Linked DNA regions of Homo sapiens: all the other regions are reported to be linked to region 1. The links are microRNA targets in miRTarBase. Many come from high-throughput screens and were not tested one by one. Region 1 holds a microRNA gene; each other region holds the end of a gene's coding sequence.

Evidence for each region. Region 1 holds the annotated microRNA hsa-miR-550b-2-5p (AUGUGCCUGAGGGAGUAAGACA, at 2,127-2,148, shown strand). A microRNA usually pairs through its seed, bases 2 to 8, with sites in the 3' UTR of a target mRNA and lowers its output. Matches are read on the target gene's strand: a 7mer-m8 pairs with bases 2 to 8, a 7mer-A1 pairs with bases 2 to 7 and ends in A, and an 8mer does both.
Region 2: the mRNA of NLRP9 is a reported target of hsa-miR-550b-2-5p. The part of its 3' UTR that is shown has no 7-base or 8-base seed match.
Region 3: the mRNA of SLC36A2 is a reported target of hsa-miR-550b-2-5p. Seed matches in the 3' UTR shown: 7mer-A1 at 1,459-1,465.

The regions. Positions count from the first base shown.
Region 1 is chr7:32,731,930-32,735,188 of GRCh38, reverse strand. It overlaps MIR550B2 (microRNA 550b-2), which reads left to right and starts at 2,112; the gene lies at 2,112-2,208. It overlaps MIR550A2 (microRNA 550a-2), which reads right to left and starts at 2,208; the gene lies at 2,112-2,208.
Region 2 is chr19:55,706,066-55,709,324 of GRCh38, forward strand. It overlaps NLRP9 (NLR family pyrin domain containing 9), which reads right to left. Exons shown (of 9, transcript NM_176820.4): 9 at 2,373-2,979. The coding sequence ends at 2,847. EPN1 (epsin 1) reads left to right here. Exons shown (of 11, transcript NM_001130072.2): 11 at 1-3,259. It also overlaps the pseudogene VN1R106P. Among named protein-coding and RNA genes, the nearest start is that of NLRP9, 31 kb to the right of the region's middle.
Region 3 is chr5:151,313,821-151,317,044 of GRCh38, reverse strand. It overlaps SLC36A2 (solute carrier family 36 member 2), which reads left to right. Exons shown (of 10, transcript NM_181776.3): 10 at 1-2,073. The coding sequence ends at 228. Among named protein-coding and RNA genes, the nearest start is that of SLC36A3, 12 kb to the right of the region's middle.

The sequences.
Region 1 (3,259 bases):
AAAAAAGGTTTTAAAAAACTTCCTTTCCCTCTGGTTGAATTCTAACTGCTGGCCTCTTCCTCTGCCTGTCTCTTAAAATACTTGCTCCTCTGGATTCCATCCTTGTCCTTCGTCAATCTATATTCATCCCTTAGTAATCTTATCCACTTTCTGGAATCATTTATATCCTGCAATTTGATTTCTCAGTTTTTTGTAATATCCTGAATTAGAGACTCATGTTTCCAGCCACTTAAAGGATACTTCTATCCAGATGGAAATCCTATAGCCACTCAAATTTAACAGGCCTAAAAGGAACTCATTATCATTTCCTAAAACTTGTTATTTTCATCTTTAATACTGGTTAAAGACATCACTGTGTACCCAGGTTCTCAATTCTATCAGTTCTACCTTAGAAATCTCAATCAAATCTAACTTTTCTTCTCCCTCACCAATGCCATCTTTTCAACGTAGGCATCTTCTATCAGTTATATTCTAAAAGAATCCTAACTTATCCTCCTGCTATCACACTCTCCTCCTTAAGAACTGAATCCTGATCAGGGTTGCTGCATACAGCCTGAAGTCTGCACCACTAGAGAAGGTTGCCATCCATGTAAACTACGAATGTTAATTGTGCCCAATGGCCTAATCATGATACTCCCCCTGCTTTCAAACTTCATTAGATAAAACAAACCTACAGCACTATAAAATCCTTCAACTGGCTCCACTTTCTATTTTTCTAGCTTCAGGTGCTCATCATTCCTCTATGCACCCTACAGTCCAGACATATTTAACTTTTCAGTATGCCCTATCAAAACCCAAGCTTTTGTGGATTTTTCTTTAGTCTACAGTGCCCTCTCTCCATAAAACTTCTAAATCCTTCAAACTACAGTTCAAATGTACCCTCCTCTGTGAAGCATTTTTTGACTAGCCTAGACAAAGATACTTCACGAAGCATTTTGTTAACAGTTCTATTACTGAATTTGTTGCACTGTATAATGATCACACATATCCATCTCTCAAATTCAATGGAGAGTTGAGCAGTGCATAAAGAAGCCCCACATTTAAACCCTGAATATCTACAATGCCCAGCCCCTAAAAGGGGCTCAATTCATGTTTATTAATACTATACTTACCATATGCATTAGTACAACTTTTTAAAAGTAAATAAAAACTGAGTTTTAAAAAAAAGTTGCATGTTCAGCTGTCAATCTAAGTCTATAATCCATGTGGCAGACAGAATTGATGTGACTATTCTTGATTCCTACACTTCCTGGTGTTTAAACCTTTGTATAATTCCCTCCCCTTGCACGTGAACTGGACCTATGACTTGCTTCTAATCAATGAAATACAGCAAAGGCAATGGGTTGTATGTGATTACATGTACACGATTATGTAAGAACATAGCACCAGTTCACCTTTGATAGACTCTCTTCCTTTGCTGACTTTGAAGAAGCAAGCTGCTCTGAACCAAACAGACACAAGGAAATAAATTCAGCCAATAACCCAAGGAAGTCTGGGGGCAGACCTTTCCCCAGTTGAGTCTCTACATAACAACCCAGCCCTGGCCAACACTTTGACTGCAGTCTTACAGAGGACACAGCTAAGTTGTGCCCAGCCTCTTGACCCATAGAAATTGCGAGGTAATAAATGTGTTGCTTAGAACAGCTAAATTTGTAGTTATTTGTGAACAAGCAGCTTAGAACATGAATAAAATAAAAAAAAAAAGAAAATGAATAAAATCAGAACCTAAGGTATTTCTGAACTCTTTGTTCACAAAAAGGCCTATGTTTTGTCCAATTTCTAAACAAATAAATGTCATGTATATGCAAAATTAAAACACAGACTAACATTTCAAATAAACAATAGTTCTTAAGAATATTCACATAAGGTAAAACTTAGGAAGTAATCTGCTACATAAAGCAGTTCCTACACTCTCTTTTAACACATTTGCCAGTATACCCAATTGTACATAATACTTAGTACATGTAATAAGTTTAATATTAGGGCAATTCTCCTTACAAACCCAAATAATAATAAATAGTTTAAAAGTTGATATCTAATTAATGATATTTGGTAATCAAAAGAACTTACTTACTGGTCACCAGGCAAAGCAATCAAATTGGAGGAGAGCAAGAGACTCGCTGGAGATGTGCCTGAGGGAGTAAGACACTATCTGACAACAACAGGGCTCTTACTCCCTCAGGCACTGCACCAGCCAGCAAAGCATCAAAATACCAGGTTCTTAGGTCACGCTGCTCTCAGATCAGGTGATGCCCTGTGCAACTCACCAATCCTCCCCACCTTGCAGTCAAGAATAGTTCCAAAAAATCCCCAAAGCAGAAACGTCCATGACACAGGCCACACTTACACACAGCAAAACATATAACACGAAGGTATGAAATTACAAGTGAGAAACAATAACCACCAAAATTCTTATTACTTCAGGAGTGGCAGGGGTTGTGGTTAGAAGGCTCATTTTTCTTAGAAAGAGGCAAACATTCCTCTTTGGCCACTCCCCATAAAAGCCTTCAATGGCACAAAATAACATTCAGGAATAGGAAGTAGATTAATTAGAGTATCCCAAATTCAAACATTTTGGCACTTGATATTGGTAAGAAGAGATAACTGAGACCAATTCCATAATGGTTAATTGATGAAGACAACCTAACAGCATAAAACTTCACATCTGCTTAAAAATTAAGAGAAATCGTCCTAGAAATACAGGTCTTATTCAACATATTCAGTTTTAAGAGATAACCCACACTCCTTCAATATAAGAAAACATGTTGCACAAGTAACAAGGCACCTGAGTTACAATCAGACTACTGAAATACTCATGAGCAAGCCACACCCAAAAAAGCTCAAGAAAATCAGGAGGCCAAAAGCAACCCAGCACCACTAGTTGTCTTAGATTAAGTCATTTTACATTTTCACTTCCGGACTCAAAGATACATTATAGAAGTCCACACGATGTCTCTGGAAATAATCTCCATGTATTGGTATATTTCTATAGCCCAATTCATCTACCCCATCCTTGCTGCATCATTAAAGGCTATTTGACCACTCATGTTATGCTCTTATGAACAATAGCTACTTGACAGTGGAAAAAAAAACGTAGACGTAAATTAAAGCCAAACAAACCCTAAAATACCGTCAAGATTTTTAAATATTAGGAAATACCCTTAAGACCTTTTTTAAAACAAAGGTGATGGACGACACTAGCAGTAGTCAAGAAAGCGTCTGTTCACTTTAACACTCCTCAGTCTGAAAAGAATAATAA
Region 2 (3,259 bases), not on the chromosome of region 1:
GTTGGGGAACAACCCAGCTTTAGTTTTTCCAGATTCTCTGCATGTGCAGGTTTATGAGACTGGAGAACTTTGATTTCTTCTTCCTCCTCCTCCTCTCTTTTCTTCTTCCTCTTCCTCCTTTTTCTCCTCCTTTCTTCCTTTATTTTTCTTTCTTCCTTTCCTCCTCTTTCTTCTCCTTTTTCCTCCTCTTTTCTTCCTTTCTTCTCTTTTTCTTCTTCTTTTTTTTTTTTTTTTAAAAGACCGTGTTTCGCTCTGTCACCCAGGCTGGAATGCAGTGGCGTACTGTTTTAGAAAAGTGAAAGAGGGCCGGGCGTGGTGGCTCATGTCTGAAATCCTAGCACTTTGGGAGGCTGAGGCGGGTGGATCACCTGAGGTTGGGAGTTCGAGACCAGCCTGGCCGACATGGCAAAACCCTGTCTCTACTAAAAATACAAAAATTAGCCGGGCATGATGGCAGATGCCTGTAATCTCAGCTCCTCAGTAGGCTAAGGCGGGAGAATCGCTTGAACCCAGAGGCAGAGGCTGCAGTGAGCCAAGATTGCAGCATTGCAGGAAAGAGAGAAAAAGGAGGGAAGGGGAAGGAAAAGGAAAGAAAGAAAAGAGGGGAAGGGAAGGGAGAGATTTAAAAAACAATAGTAAAGAGAGATTTAAAAAACAATAGTAAAGAGAGATTAAAAAAAAAAAGTAAATGGGCCAGGTGCGATGGCTTGTGCCTGTAATCCCAGCAGTTTGAGAGGCTGAAGTGGGAGGATCACTTGAAGCCAGGAGTACCAGACCAGCCTGGGAAACATAGTGAGACCCCGTCTATACTAAAAAATATTTAAATGGGCTGAGCGCGGTGGCTCAGGCCTGTAATCCCAGCACTTTGGGAGGCCGAGGCAGGCGGATTACCTCAGGTCAGGAGTTTGAGACCAGCCTGACCAACATGGCAAAACCCCATCTCTACTAAAAATACCAAAACAAAAACTAGCAGGGCATGGTGGCGCATGCCTGAAATCCCAGCTACTCAGGTGGCTGAGACAGGAGAATCACTTGAACCCAGGAGACGGAGGCTGCAGTGAGCCGAGATTGTGCCACTGCACTCCAGCCTGGGCGAGCAACAGAGTGAGGCTGTCTCTCAAAAAAAAAAAAAAAGGAACGGTAGTGTGCACCTGTGGTCCCAGCTACACAGGAGGCTGAGGCAGGAGCATCACTTGAACCCAGGAGTTCAAGGCTGCAGTGAGCTATGATGGCACCACTGCCCTCCAGACTGAGCCAAAAAGCAGACCCTGACTCTAAAACAAAAGAAAGAACAAATAACAAATGAAAATAAATACCCAAAAACCAGTCAAATGTGAAACTGGTGTCAGGGGTATGTTCTCCATGTTGAGCCCCTTCTGTGGAATATGACAGTGTCTCTATTTCGGGTAAAGGAAAGACCAAAATAACTTTCCAAGATGAAAAGCTAAGAGTGCTGATCTCATCACAGACATAGCCAGCTCTTCAGTTCAGACCACCTGGAAACCCTCCCCATGTCTTTTCAGAACAATGTCCTAAGAACCATAGGGGAAGTGGCCATAAAAACCATCTTTCCTTTGCAGACTGGGGTGGGGACTCTGGCCAATGCCATTCTGTTCTTCCATAATATCTTTCCCATCTTGACTGAGCATCAAATGAGGCCCACACACAAGATTCTCACCCACATGGCCGTGGCAAACTCCTTGGTTCTTCTTTCCACTGGAATCCCCCACACAATGGTGTCTTTTGTCCTATGGAAACCCTTGTCCAGTCTTGAGTGTAAACTCGTGTTTACAGGTCTTAAAGTCCTGACCTGGTGATCCGCCCGCGTGGACCTCCCAAAGTGCTGGAATTACAGGCGTGAGCCACCACTCCTGGCCTATGCCAGCATTCTTTAAAGTTGTGGGAAAAGGCCAAAAGCAAATAGAAAATTGGGCAAAAAAGTTCATAATTGCTTAAACATATGGAAAACCTGGAAGTAAAATTAAGCAAGTAAGTGCGAGCACTCTACATTGAAGATTATAGAAAATTCAGCCTCCCAAATATCCAAAGAATCCAGGAGTGTGCCAAGAGATCCAAGAGTAGGTCCACAATTTCTCATTCTCAGGAGAATCTGAGATTATATTTCAATCTAATGATAACTGATTATATAATCCAATTTCTGCATCATCTTGCTTTTATGTTTTGTAATAAAAATTTTAGACCAGGCCAATAAGGCATCAGCAATTTACCGTAGGGAACTAGGGAATGTTTAATTATGACAATGAAGTGTTTAATATTGTGTTTTGAAATATAAACAGTGTAGATATATTTGAATAATACTGAATTTTTAGAAAAATCTATTGGGGTGTCATATATAAAAGGATAAGTAGAGATTTGGAAATGCTTTTTTATTGGACAAGAAAATTGATCAAATCGAAATCTGGACAAACTAGAAAGTCTGGATGCTAGCAATACAATCTATAGACACATTCTAGCATCACTTCTGTGTCAGAAGTATCCGGATTGTGGTGCCTACAAATGCATGCTCCTACACACCAAGACATCCATTAAGAAAATAAAGCCATGCTTTCCAGAGCGTTTAGCACTTGTTTAACGTACTTGTGCTTCTAAATATCACAAGGCAGGATGGGATTTCTAAAGACAAGGGGATATAGGACCGAGGCAAAGACAATCAGCATGTACACTGAATCACACTCCATAATCATATTGCTAGAACACTTAGGGAGTACCTCTGAAATCACAGCCCTGCTGCCATGATGTGCAATTACAGGATAGAGGTGCCAGGTGAAGGTCCCACTGTGGCCAAGGAAAGCCTTTGTGAGACGACTACTTCAGGGTGTTCCCCATCAGAGGAGCACACCCCTGATCTTGTATTCCTCGTCAATCCAAGGTCCATGTGAAATGGTCAGATGGGGAATTTTTTCTTCCACAGACATCAGGATCTTCTGAGTTTCTTCATCAAAGCCAGATTTGTGCAGCCTGGGAAAATAGAAATAAAGTTTTTTTTTTTGTTTTTCATTTTTACACAGTATTGCCTCTCTACATTCTGATGTCTACCTCTCCTCTCCTCTTTATTCTTTCCTAGAAATCACTGGGAGAATTGTACTGAATTTGAAAAACAAGCATGAATCTTTCCTATAGGATAGGAAGCCTCTGATTTATACCATAAAGTGAAATTTCATATACAGGATGTATCAATTAAGATTTAATTCAAAAAAGATGAATTTAAGTTAAAAAGAAAAACACAGGATAACTTCCA
Region 3 (3,224 bases), not on the chromosome of region 1:
CTGGTGGGCTCCGTGAGTGGCACCGCCCTGGCCCTCATCATCCCACCGCTCCTGGAGGTCACCACGTTCTACTCAGAGGGCATGAGCCCCCTCACCATCTTCAAGGACGCCCTGATCAGCATCCTGGGCTTCGTGGGCTTTGTGGTGGGGACCTACCAGGCCCTGGACGAGCTGCTCAAGTCAGAAGACTCTCACCCCTTTTCCAACTCCACCACTTTTGTTCGGTGAGCCTGGCACTGCTCCTTGCCTACCAGCACCCGACTTTTAATTATATGGATCTCTTTTTTTTTTTTTTTTTTTTTTTGAGACGGAGTTTCTGTCTTGTTGCCCAGACTGGAGTACAATGATGCGATCTCAGCTCACCACAACTTCGGCCTCCTGGGTTCAAGCGATTCTCCTGCCTCAGCCTCCCGAGTAGTTGGGATTAGAGGCATAGTCCAGCACGCCTGGCTAATTTTGTATTTTTAGTAGAGACGGGGTTTCTCCATGTTGGTCAGGCTGGTCTTGAACTCCCGACCTCAGGTGATCCACCCACCCCGGCCTCCCAAAATGCTGGGATCACAGGCGTGAGCCACCTCGCCTGGCCAGATCTCTTTTATATGCATTATCTTTATGTCACTGCTTTGCCTTTTCTCTGGGCCAAGTCATGGTGAAACAAGAAAGCTACAAGCTCTAAATGGTAATTTTTTACATTTTTGTTTTGTTTATTACTTCTTCTTTTCATACCTCTGGCATTCCACTACATTGTGAGCTTTCCCTTGGAAGGCTCTGGACTCTATCCAAGCTTATGATAATTCACACAATGAATTTCATACCTAGCGTGGAGCTATGCAAGAAGCAGCCACCAGAGGGCCCCAAGTGGCAGCAACTGGCCAAAGGAGATGCAGCCAGCTAAGACTGTCCACACTTTGGCAGACAACCGGTTTTCCCTTTTCTGGGTCTGTTCAAAAAGCAAACATTAAGGGTGGGCACATAATCCACAAGCCAGAAAGTTGTGCACGGCTCCAGTGTTGAGATGGGTAGGGCCAAGATGACCAGTGTGAAAACTCTCAGATAGAAAGGAGCCATGCATATTAAATGAGGGGCAACAAACATTTCAAACGATTAGATAACATTTTCTCCCAACTCAAAGATCCCAACAATGAATAGGAGGCATGGAAGTAGATGTGCCAATGGGGAGGGATGAGGAGTGAACATGAATATTATTTGAATAGACTTTACCTCTTAATTCTTGCAACATGCATTCTTGATTACCTACTGTGTGCCAAACAAGATTTTGTAGAATATTGCAAAAATGACCATAAATTCCTCGTGATAATGTGACTTTGCACCTGCTCCTATGAAAAGATGAAGTCTGTATCTGTATCCCTTAAATTTTTTTGCTTGTTTGTCGGTTTTGTTTTGTGTTTTGTTTTTTTGAGATGAAGTCTCGCTCTGTTGCCCAGGCTGGAGTGCAATGGCACAATCTCGGCTCACTGCAACCTCCACCTCCTGGGTTCAAGCGATTCTTCTGCCTCAGCCTCCCAAGTAGCTAGGATTACAAGTGCCTGCCACTATGCCTGGCTAATTTTTGTTTTTCGTAGAGATGGGGTTTTACCATGTTGGCCAGGCTGGTCTCAAACTCCTGACCTCAGGTGATCCACTTGCCTCGGCCTCCCAAAGTGCTGAGATTACAAGTGTGAGCCACCACGCCCAGCCTCTCCCCTTTAAATTTGATCTTGGCCTTGTAACTTGCTTTGGCCAATGGGACATTAGTAAATGTGATGCAGTCAGAGGTTTGGTAATAACCTATGCATCAGGACTTACATCACTTGCTGCTCTATGGAGTTGAGACCACCAAGTAAAGCATCCTGGGCTAGCCTACCGGAGGATCAGAGACCATGTGGAACATAAATGAATCATCCCAGTTGAGCCCTGTCCGCAGATCAACCAGCCTACCAACTTCCAGACACGAGTAAAGCCATCCTAGACTATATCCAACCCCAGTCAGGCTGACACAGACCATAAGAATTGTACAGATAATCCACAGAACTGTGATAAATAATAAAGATGTTTGTAATTTTAATACATAAAGAGTGGGAAGTTTTATGCAGCAAAAGATAACTGATAAATCATTCTAAAGAGGATACACTGATTAATGAGAAAAGAATCCCTGCTCTCAAGCAGCCAGTCTGCTGTCCATTGGGGAAGAGTTAACAGGTAATCAACTAAGTAAATACCATCTAATGTCCATCTAAGGGCAAAGGACACTACCTGCTCTAGAGCACCAAAGAAGACTTTCCACAGGTGGTATCATTTGAGCTGGGCTTTGAGTAGAACCTGAATCTTCTACGACTGAGCCTGAACCTTCTTCCATTCTGTCCTGCTGCCTGGACATTACAGCACCTATGCTTGTGTCTGATCTTGGCTGGCAGCCAGAGGCAAGCCAACCTGAGACATCACCTCCATCCTTCTGGTGGTGACTGCTCTCTCCCCTCCCCTCAGAATTACTAAAATTGAGAAAACGCACCTAGATAAATAAATAGATGTTGAAGATCTATAGTCCCAAAAGGTGGGGAGAGGAGAGTTTCTCATCAAACTCTCCGTGGTTTACGGGAATGAGCTATGCCTGTTTCAGCCTCGGTGTTAAGAGAACATTTGAAAAAGCCCTGTCCTGCTTATTTTCATCCTTCGTCTTCCCTGTGCCCCCCAATTCCCACGTCCCGGTCTGCTCTTTCTGTATGTTACTTTCTATCTGCTGGACTTCCAGAAGATACTTCACCAGCACAAGTCCACTCAGATGGAGGAAAGGCTGGTGGTCCACACCCAGATCCCATAGCCTACAGAGTCCCTGTTGGGCAACAGGACACTCATAGCTCGTGCAGGGGTCCACAGTCCACTTTGCCAGAGAATGGGTTGTCATTTCCACCCTGAGCTCTCTGTTTCATCAGCAAACCCAAAGGACTTCCAATGATCCATCCTGAGTGTTGGCAATGTGATCATCCTCTCTGGAAACATTTCTCTCCCACCCTGCTCCACTATCAATCACCGCACCCATCCTTGAAGTTTAAAGTTATCTTCTCTGTTATTAAGAAAAGTTTACACTCATTCTCTAAAGATAAGCCCCTACTGTGTAAGAGGATAGGGTTAATTTTATTACTCAGACAAATCTGGCTGAAGTTAAACCTTGGAAAGAAAAACTAAATTTAGCAACATTGATATAACCAACAAAACTAAGCTAGGGA